Regions from separate parts of the Homo sapiens genome. Here region 2 is linked to region 1. Evidence: fine-mapped expression QTL. A gene starts in region 1. The other region holds a variant in brackets. All regions are shown on one strand. Distances are from middle to middle.

Region 1 (5,373 bases):
ACCATGCCCCTGTCCTCTCTCATGACACCCTCCCCAGCCAACCAGTCCCCAGGTGGACCCCTGAACTAGTGGAGAGTCCAGCAGGGTGTCCCGGTAGAGACCACCATGCCCCTGTCCTCTCTCATGACACCCTCTCCAGCTGACCAGTCCCAGGCGGACTCCTAAGCACTAGCTCTGCTTTCCTGAGGTCCCTCTCCGATTTTGTGATGAGCAGCTCTCCAAGAGTTTTGACCTCCACAGAGCAAGATTATCACCTCCTTTGCTCTAGATGTTATGCTCCTAGTAACACAGCCTTAAGCTCCTCAGGTGTTTTGGATTCCTCAGTGTCCAGGTGGTCTCTGCAGCCAACACACCGATCATCTCCCCCGCCCACCCAAAGCTGTGTGTAACCAGCTTATGGCTGCCTGTCCATTAGATTCCCCTCTCACCTGCAGGGAGCAGCTGAGTCCCCTTGCCCCAGGCAGAGGAGGCCGACCCCCCAGTCCAGACCTGCTTTACTGATGCTCAATGTGGGCTGGGCACCGTGCTGAGCTCCGAGGGGTGTGGGGATTGGGGAAGGGGGACTGATACATCTTCCAACAAGACCAGGATAGACCGTACAGGCTGCTGTGTGGAGGAAGGACAAGCCGGGCAGAGGACAGAGCCTGGGAGGGTCAGGAGTGGCAGGAGTGGGGGGAGCTGCTGTGGCCAGAGAACCTGGGGAGCTCATGGGGACCCTGCCAGCGAAAGCCATGCGGGCAGGCTGGGCCCTGTATAGTCCTCGAACACCGCATAAGAGCTGTGGCTTCAGGCAGGCACAGTGGCTCACACCTGTAATCCCAGCACTTTGGGAGGCCAAGGTGGGCAGATTGCCTGAGCTCAGGAGTTCAAGACCAGCCTGGGCAACATGGTGAAACCCCGTCTCTACTAAAATACAAAAAATTAGCCGGGCATGGTGGTACATGCCTGTAGTCCCAGCTAGTCGGGAGGCTGAGGCAGGAGAATCACTTGAATCCAGGAGGCAGAGGTTGGATTGAGCCGAGATTGTGCCACTGCACTCCAGCCTGGGCGACAGAGCGAGACTCCGTCTCAAAAAAAATGAAAAAAAAAAAAAATAAAGTTTTTATTAAACATAAAAAAGGAGCTATGGCTGACCCCTGGGGGCAGCTGGGAGTTGGGTGCAGAGGCTCTGGGTTACATAGGAGAGCGCGGGCTGCGTTGGGGGGTGGGGGAGACCAGAAGCCAGGGGCCAGGAGGAGGCTGCTGCAGGGGCCATAGGGACGGGGAAGGGGGCCAGCTGGCCACAGAGGGATGACATGGGCGGGGAAAGGGCTGTGTGGACAGGTGGTGACTGTGTGGTCAGGGGGTGCCACTCTCAGCTTGAATCATCCTCAGGGGACTCACCTGGCGACACATAGGTGGGGGCAGGAAGACGGATTTCTGTAAGAAGAACCCAGCTGGGTGGGGTGGAGCTGGGGCCACTGGTGATCCTACCCCAATAGGAAAGCTTCCTGGAGGAAGTTTCCGGAGCCAGGTGTCATCAGGCTGGAGAGAGTCCCCCGCCCTCCAACTCAAAGGGAGCAGGCTCAGGATGGAGGAGGCATCGGCGAGGGAGAGCTTTGGCCCTGGAGCGTAGGCAACCTTGAGGCCAGGCAGGTGGAGTAGCCCACAGAGAGGGACTCCTGGGCACCCGGCCCTCCCGTGTCCAGTCACGGCCTGATGAGGATGGGCAGCCTCTATGGCTTTCCCCATCCCCACGTGGCCTTTGGTGGACTAAAAGGCTGGGATGCACCGAGCGTGAAGGAGACAGAAGAAGGGCACGTCTCTTGCCCCTCCCAGGGCCTCTGGTTTCCTTTCTGAGAAGTGGGCTGAATGGTCCCCAAGGACTCTGTGGCCCTGAGAGCTGGTTGCTCTCTCTCTTCTCTGGGCCCGAGAATGTGGCCTGCCCTGGGCCTCTGGGGCAGGAGAGGCTCAGGGAACTCTGGACTAGGGCCGCAGCAGCTATCATTAGCTCCCTGAGTCACCCCGTAAACCCCACGTTCTCACCTGCTGGACTCTCTTGTTGCCCTGGCCCTCCCTCTCTCTCCCAATCCCTGACACTGATTGAAATGGCCTTTCCCGGGCGACAGACCAGGCCGCGGAGCCACAGCTGCTGACTCAGCACCTGTGAGATGCCTGGGCCCCGTCTGTCTCCCACGGTGGGGCCACCTCCTCCCATCCTGAACTCCCATCACAATCCTGCCCCAGAAAGCCACCTCCCTGGGTCAGCCTCGGGAGGCAGGAGCCTCTCCTCTGCCCCCAGCAGTGGTGAGATTGAGATGTCCCTCCCCAGGATTCCCAAACCTCAGGGGAATGTTCCTGAGTCTGTAAGGACCTATATTCTCACACATCCCTACAGCCAAGAGTGCAGCCAAGAGTGCCTCCCTACAGCCAAGAGTGGGCCCCTGGCTGGGGCCCAAGCTCCTTCCAACCCTCCTCCCAAGGCCTATTGGCCAAGGGCAGACATGGCCCAGAGGACCTCTGAGGGCCACGCTCTGGGCTCCCCAGGGGCCTTGGAGATCACCAGCTGCCTTGTGCACAGAAGACTCACCTGGTGAGGTTCTGGGTGGTCGTGGCAACCCTTGCCCTGAGATCACCGCATGTCTGGGGCCCAAGGCCCCCGGGTGGGACTGTGGCTGAGGCGGCGGGAAGCTCTCATTGCAGGCAGAGGGATGGCTGGAATGAGGCGTCAGAGGCAGAACTGGCTGAGCCACCTGCCCTCGGCGCCAGGCAGGCCACGCCCACCAGCCACAGCTGCAGCACCCGCCCACCCACGTGGCCCGTGTGAGTCACCCCCACACCCACACAGCAGCCTCATCCCCACCGGAGAAAAGGCAGGGGAGGCCGCAGGTGCCAAGATCGAAGTTGTGGGTCCAACTCCTCCCTCTCTGGCATTCCATGCTGGGCAGGGACTGCCCATCTCAGGCCTATTTTTCCAACTAGGAAATGGGAATGATAACATCTACTTTCCAAGGGAGCCGTGAAGAGCCAAAGAGATCACAGAGGTGGGAGGGCCTAGTGAAGAGTCAAGCGCTCTGCTCTGTCCCCTGGGAGGGAAGACCGCAGCCCAGGCCTAGCCTGGTTGACCTCAGGGTGGCCAGCCCCAAGACTCGGCACTTGTTCTCAAAAGTCGGTTCCTGGGATCAGGTCTCTCGGGGACGGAAGTCCCCATTTAATGCTGTCCACCAGCAGTCACGCATCATGGCCCTTAGTGTCAGCCTCACCCCTTCCTGGCTGAATGACCTTAGCAGGTCATTTCTCCGAGCCTCAGTCTCCTCATCTGTGAAACGTGCTTCATAAACCCACTTTGCAAGGTTATCGTGGGGCTTCAACAAGTACAAGTAGAAAGGGCCAGAACAAGGCCCAGGGCACGGCAAGAACTCAATAAACAATGTCAGCTCTTAGCTATGATTGCTTTTGTCATCTCAATGTATTCTCCCAGCAACTGCCCAGGTTGCCCTTCTCCAAGGCCAGGGCGTCATAGAAGGAATCGGTGCCCTCTCTCCTGGCCCAGGCTGCAGCTGTGAAGTGGGTGGAGTGAGTCAGGATGGCCGTGTGTGTCTCGCGTCACTCAGGAACTGCACACCTGCTCCCCGGGGCGAGATGTGGACAAGACACAGCTGGGACAGAGCAGGAAGTCTCTGCTGACGCGGCCGCAGCTGGCGCCTGATGGGCAGGGAAATCCCCAGCTGTGAGCCTCTCAATCCCTCATCATCACAACCTGCCTGGCCTGGGGAGGAGGCAGGAGGCAGGTGAGGCTTCTAGGCCACGGGAGAGCAGGACCTATGGCCGGTAAGGGGCAGACCAGACTTGAGGGTGTGGGTGAAGCAGGAGACCGCTTCTGCCGTTGAAGTCAGGGGGTCCTGAAGTTCCCACTCACAATCTGAAATCTCATGACTGTGCCTGAAACTCGACCGGAAAAGCCCGATCTGGGGTTGAGCACGGCCTCCGGCCACTAGCTTACTCACCCTCTCCCGACCCAGCCCCGCGCCCTCCCTGTTTGCCTCTGGCGGCTCAGACGCCTGGGGAGGAAGCTGCTGCCAAATGTCAGTGCTTCCATTTTGCTCGTGTTCATAACTTTTCTCAGAGGGCAGGTGGGAGCTGGTGAAAAAGGCCCCTGTCTCCCACCCAGAGGTGTGCCCTGTGCCCAGCAAGGAAGAAGGGGACCCCCGCTCTGCTATGAGAGGCAGCAGGAGCCAGGTCACCCAGTGGAGTCACAGTCACTACTTAGGAAGCCCGAGCCCATCCTAATCCCACCCCAAACACACAGAAGCAGCAGCTTCAGCCCCTTAGATGGTCTATATTCAACCCCATTTAACCCAGCACATGGTGAGAGCCCACGGGAGAGGCCGTGGCAAGGGCGCAGGTGGACAACGAGGGATTCAGAACTGGAGAAGGCCGTGTCCACCCTCGTGGGCCACAGGGGACACAGGCTCAGGCAGGAACCATGACCCACCATGTGGGTCATCAGGACAAAATGGGCTGAGACCCCCAAGGCGGGAGGAAGTCCCTGTGATGGGGTGTAGGGGATGAGTTCGGGAAAGAGGGAGCATCTGCCTGGACTTGGAAGGAGGGAAGAGGCCACAACATGGTGAAACCCCGTCTCTACTAAAAATACAAAATTAGCGGGGTGAGGTGCTGCACACTGTAGTCCCAGCTATTCGGGAGGCTGAGGCAGGAGAATTGCTTGAACCTAGGAGGCAGAGGTTGCAGTGAGCCGAGACTGCACCACTGTACAGCCTGGGCAACAGAGCGAGACTCCGTTTCCAAAAAAAAAAAAAAAAAAGAAAGAAAGAAAAAAGAAAAAGAATGGAAAAGTGAAAAGGAATATGATCAGAACAAAAATATAACATGCTATAGTGTAAATGCATACAACACATTGGTCAATGCTATTAAGTTTAAATTAAACACACACACACACACAGAGAGAAACAGAAAAAAAGATAAAAGATAAAATGACCACTTCATACTCTTTAGAATGGCCCAAATCCAAAATGTTGACAGCACCAGCAAATGCTGGTGAGGACATGGAGCAACAGGAACTCTCGGCCATCACTGGTGGGAATGTAAAACGGTGCAGCCACTTTGAAAGACACTTTGGTGGTTTCTTACAAAACTAAACATACTCTTACCATTCAATCCAGCAATCACACTCTTTGGTGTTTATTCAAAGAAGCTGAAAACTTATGCCCACACAAAAATTGCCCATAGATATTTATAGCAACTTTACTTATAATTGCCAAAACTTGGAAGCAACCAAAATGTCCTTCAGTAGGTGAATGGATAAAGAGTGGTACATCCGGCCAGGCGTGGTGGCTCACGCCTGTAATCCCAGCACTTTGGGAGGCGAAGGCA
Region 2 (5,373 bases), 32 kb before region 1:
ACTAGAATTCAATAAAAAGCAACAAATAGGCCTGGCGCGGTGGTTCATGCCTGTAATCCCAGCACTTTGGGAGGCCGAGGCAGGTGGATCACCTGAGGTCAGGAGTTCAAGACAATCCTGGCCAACATGCTGAAACCCTGTCTCTACTAAAAATACAAAAATTAGCCAACATGGTGGTGCGTGCCTGTGATCCCAGCTACTCTGGAGGCTGAGGCAGGAGAACTGCTTGAACCCAGGAGGCAGAGGTTGCAGGGAGCCGAGATCGCACCACTTTACTCTGGCCTGGGCAGCAGAGCAAGACTTGGTCTCCAAAAAAAAAAAAAAAAAGCAACAAATTATTCTGAGACTCAACTGGCTATGTGGAATTTACAATAAACTGCATGGTATATTTTCATTATTTGCAAATTGTGTGATACACATCGTTTATATAGTAAAATGTATGATAAGTCTTTTGTGTATATATATGGAATATACATATTCCACCTACACACACACACATACACACACACACACACAGAACAGTCGTTAAATGTTTACCAGCACGCCACTGCCCAGGGGTGAGAACATTCCTCCACAAACTGTACCCCTCCCCAGCACCCCACAAGCCTGGGGGATTTAAGGTCTTGACACTTAAAGCCTGGCCGAAAGCAAAGGGAGTGCATGGCATTTGGGAGAAAGAGCAGTGACCTGCCCCTTGGTAAACCCCTCTTCCTCTCCAGATCTCAGTTTCCCCATCTGAAAAATGGCCATCCTCCGAGGGCCCTCCCGCCGGCGCAGCTCTCAACGCACCTTCTGGATCATGACGCTGTACATGCCCATGGACTGGAAACCCCGCGTATAGTAGAGCATGTTCGCCCAGCCCAGGGCCATGGCCAGCACGAGGCAGGCGAGGTACTCTTTGTAGGCAAACAAGTACAAGAAGACAGACAGTATCACAAGCACAGCTTGGATAAAACTGTTCAGGAGACACAGGAGACACGGGCCTTACTTACTTCTCAGCATCAGGGCAAAGATATGCAAATCCCCCAAACCTCCCTTAAACCCCCTGAACAGTCACCCCGGTGACGGATGCTGAAGAGACCAGAATCACGCTGCCTCAGATCCATTTGGCTACCATAGAATTCAGCCTGTAGAGACATCACCAGATGCCACTCACAGCCTGTGGTAAGCTGATTGCAGCTGGTGGGGACTTTAAAAAAAGAAAAAACACACATCCACAGGGCCGCAGAAGATTCTAGGGTACTGCCCGGGAGGCCATATATTTTTTAAATTACCCACACGGGCCTGGTGTAGTGGCTTTCGCCTGTAATCCCAACACTTTGGGGGGCTGAGATAGGAGAAACGCTTCAGGCCAGGAGTTCAGGACCAGCCTGAGTGACATAGTGAGACCTTGTCTCTACAAAAAAAAAAAAAAAAAGAAAAGAAAAATAATCTAAATCACCCACATAATTTCTGACTCCTGCATCGATTTGAGAACTACTGGAGTAGACCAAAGATGTGGTAAATGATTGTATTTTTAACCAAAATGACAAAAACTGCCAATATCTATACTTAAAAGCCAATCATAGCAAAAGTCCCCCAAACCCTACTTTTTAAATCGTGGTGTTTTTTGGGGGGGTCAGGGGGGCAGAGACAGGGTCTTGCTCTGTCACCTAGGCTGGAGTACAGTGGCATGAACTCTGCTCACTGCAACCTCCGCCTCCCAGGCTCAAGTGATTCTCCTGCCTCAGCCTCCCTAGTAGCTGGGATTACAGGCACCCGCCACCACACCAGGCTCATTTTTGTATTTTTAGTAGAGATGGGGTTTCACCATGTTGGCCAGGCTGGTCTCGAACTTCTGACCTCAGGTGATCCACCCACCTCGGCCTCCCAAAGTGCTGGGATTACAGGCGTGAGCCAACGCGCCCAGCATTAAATCTTTTTAAAGTATGATGTATGCTAAGTGAAATAAGATAGGTGACTCCACTATATGACTGTACCTAAAATAGTCCAATTCACAGAGAAAGATGGAAGAATGGTGGTTACAGGGGGCCGGGAAAGGAGAGGAATAGGGGCTGTTGTTTAAGGGGTATGGAGTTTGAGTTTTACAGGACGAAAACAGTTCTAAAGACTGATTGCCCAACAACATGAATGTACTTCACAGTATTGATTTCTACGCTTAAAAAATGGGTGCAATGCTAACTTTTATGCTATGTGTATTTTACCACAATTAATTTTTTTTTTTTTTTTGAGATGTAGTCTCACTCTGTCGCCCAGGCTGGAGTACAGTGGCATGATCTCGGCTCACTGCAGCCTCCGCCTCCCTGGTTCAAGCAATTCTCCTGCCTCAGCCTCCAGAGTAGCTGGGATTACAGGTGCATGCCACCACACACAAGGCTAATTTTTGTATTTTTTGTAGAGAGAGGGGATTTCACCAGACTGGTCTCAAACTCCTGACCTCAGATGATAGGCCCACCTTGGCCCACCAAAGTGCTGGGATTACAAGCATGACCCATCGTGCCCGGCCCACAGTTAAAATGTTTTTAAGTATAATATATCGCAAACATACAAAATCAATATCTACTCCTACACAGTCACATGCAGACATCTGCATAACATCCATTATGCAGACATCTGGATAAAAACACTGTCTTATAACATCAGACAGTTTCCAAAATTATAAAATAGCTAACCAAAGTCACAACACAGGCACGATTGTAAGAAAAACCATCTAATTCATCAACTGCATTTTAGACTGAAATGAAGAATGTCTCCCTCCACACTAACAAAACAAATAAGAAGCAGAAGAGGCCGGCGCAGGAGCTCACACCTGGAATCCCAGCACTCTGCAAGGCTGAGGTGGGCAGATCACTTGAGGTCAGGAGTTCAAGACCAGCCTGACCAACATGGCGAAACCCTGTCTCTACTAAAAATACAAAAAGGAGCCAGGTGTGATGGTGCACGTCTGTAATCCCAGCTACTCAGGAGGCTGAGGCAGGAGAATCGCTTGAACCTGGGAGGTGGAGGTTGCAGTGAGCCGAGGTCACGCCACTGCACTCCAGCCTGGGC[A/G]ACAAGAGTAAAACTCCACCTCAACTAAAAAAAAAAAACAACAACGTAAACAGGACTGCTAAGCCTGTTGCCGCCTTCTCCACTCCATGCTGCCTTCCACGTGGGGCTCTGTGATGGGTAGAGTTGGCCATCACCACCATCTCAGCCTCCCAGAGTGCTGGAATTACAGGCGTGAGCCACTGGGCCCCACAGCCCTGAAGTTTTCTGACCTTCTCCATGGGCATTTACGTGTCTCCTACTAGGAGGAAGAGAGGAGACCCCTGGCGTGTAACCATGGCAGAGTGACTGGGACACCGTGGCACAGTAGGATATTTGTTCAAGAGGCGGACACGGCAGCCACCATACAGGACGTCAACCCTGCCTGTGAGGCGATAACCAAGGGGCCAGACCTACTTACAAGACAAAGTGGAACCAGGCATCCGAGAGGATGGACTGCAGATCCGAGGGTCTCAGCAGGAAGATGGCAATGCCCTAAGGCCAGGAAGGAAAGAAACAGTGCACCCTCTTCATGGCCCTCAGCAGGGGAGCTGAGCAGAGGGTGCTTCCCCAGGACCAAGACTCAGTGAGGGTTGAATGCACAAAGGCCCAGCTAGAGTCCAGGTGGCGGATCTGAAAGGGGACCTGTGCCTGGGGGGCGTAGGCACCTCCACGGTGAAGGTGAACGCTCCCTCAAATCTTCTCACCTCCCTCACTCCTTACCCCATCCTCACCCCAGAACCTGCAAAGCGGTACTACCACTACAGCCGCCTTCCATTCCCCACATCCAGCCTAGCGTTCCAGCCTCCGAGCCTTTGCTCATGCTGTTCCCCATATCCACCCTGTAATGACCTTGTCCTCATCGTCCTCGTGCCCAATCCTACCCCACCAGAGTAAGTGCCATCTCTGCCTTCAAGCATCTCTACCATTCCCTGTCCCCAGATAAAAGTCACCTCCCTTCCTCTGAACACTGATCTGAACCCAGCTTAGGGTCTTTTTCGGTCTATCATAAAGTCTTGATATTTATGCCTATGCTATGTCCCCAACCAGGCTGTGAATTCAAAGAGGGCAAACTCGTCCCAACCCTGTCACCTCCTCCAGGGCCACACATATATAGAAGGTGCTCAGATTATATGTGTTGATTCATTGGATGGATGGAAGGATGGATGGATGGATGGATGGATGGACGGATGGACAGATGGAGAGATGGAAAGATGGTTGGATAAAGGATAGAAGGATGGTCGGTAAGGATGAGTGGACATGTGAATGGATGAATGAGTGGCTGGGTCCATGAAAGAGGGCAGGTGATCGGATGGGTGGATGGGGGTGGAAGAGGACAAGGGACACTGAGTGGCTGGGAAGGTAGATAAATGGCGGATAGTTGGGCAGATGGATAGAGAAGTAGATGGATGAAGTAGGTAGGATAGGCCAGCCTTATCCATTTTTTCCCATGTTATAACTCAGAAAGGTAAGGCTTGGGAAGGAAACGCCTCCCCAGAACCCCCCAGCAGTAATGGCAGAGCAGAGAGGGATGGAGGCTGTCACCTGCCTGCCTCGCGGGGCGGTCTGGAAGGGCCGGGTGGCCCACTTACCTCTTTCACAGAGATGCACATGGCCCAGATGAGCACAAACATCCTCCCTAGGAGCTGCAGCCACCCCATCTTGTGCGTCAGGGCCAAGGGGTGCGGGATGGCCTGCAGGGAAAGAAGAGGGGTGGTCAGTATAGGAAGCAAGGAGGACAGGGCTGGCACCAACTCTAGAGGGACCAAAACCCAGGTGAAACACTCAAGCCGGGCCAGAGACCAGCATGAAACCTGATCTCTGTACAGGGCAAGAGAAGGAAGAGCAGCTCCCTGACCCCAACTCTCCTCACCCTTGATGGAAACCCAGAACTCTACAACGAAGAATATCATCCAATCCGTGCTAACAACCCTCACACTCCATTGCAATAGCCTTTCCGGAACCCATCCATATCCAGGCACTCAACATGGCCTCACAGCACCGTTAAATAAAGCCGAGGCTCTGTGCCCCACGTGACGCATGGGAAACCGAAGCCCAGCAGGCAGGGAGAGCTTATCCTCCTCCCGTTTCCTGCAGCCCTCACAGCAGAAACACCCAGCTAGTTCTATATTTACAGACAGAGACCCTGTGCAGGGCCTGAGTCTCCGAATTCTCCAACTTTCCTCCCAGCAAGGGTCTGCCCTTGGGACTCGGCACCTGGGGCTTAGCCCAGGCTAAGCACTGAAGACATATTCAGTTCCCTGGGAAGCGTGAAGGACAACTGGGGGACCCCGCCCAATCTCCTGGTCTCTCTGGGCCTCAGTTTTCCCACCTGCACGTGGGGCAGCT

Evidence for each region. PIP is the estimated chance that this variant, and not a neighbour inherited with it, causes the effect.
Region 2: its variant is the best candidate, but not a certain one, in a credible set for the expression of TRPV3 in testis (GTEx, PIP 0.74).

Annotation. Positions count from the first base shown.
Region 1 is chr17:3,555,107-3,560,479 of GRCh38, forward strand. TRPV3 (transient receptor potential cation channel subfamily V member 3) reads right to left here and starts at 2,706. Exons shown (of 18, transcript NM_145068.4): 1 at 2,570-2,706. RefSeq lists a silencer at 1,665-1,724 and enhancers at 2,906-3,722, 3,365-3,424, 3,505-3,554, 3,585-3,814, 3,723-4,537 and 2 more.
Region 2 is chr17:3,523,409-3,528,781 of GRCh38, forward strand. It overlaps TRPV3 (transient receptor potential cation channel subfamily V member 3), which reads right to left. Exons shown (of 18, transcript NM_145068.4): 11 at 4,617-4,718; 12 at 3,446-3,519; 13 at 790-955. Among named protein-coding and RNA genes, the nearest start is that of TRPV3, 32 kb to the right of the region's middle. RefSeq lists enhancers at 807-1,306, 4,197-5,117. The variant A/G (reference allele first, on the strand shown) is at 3,049.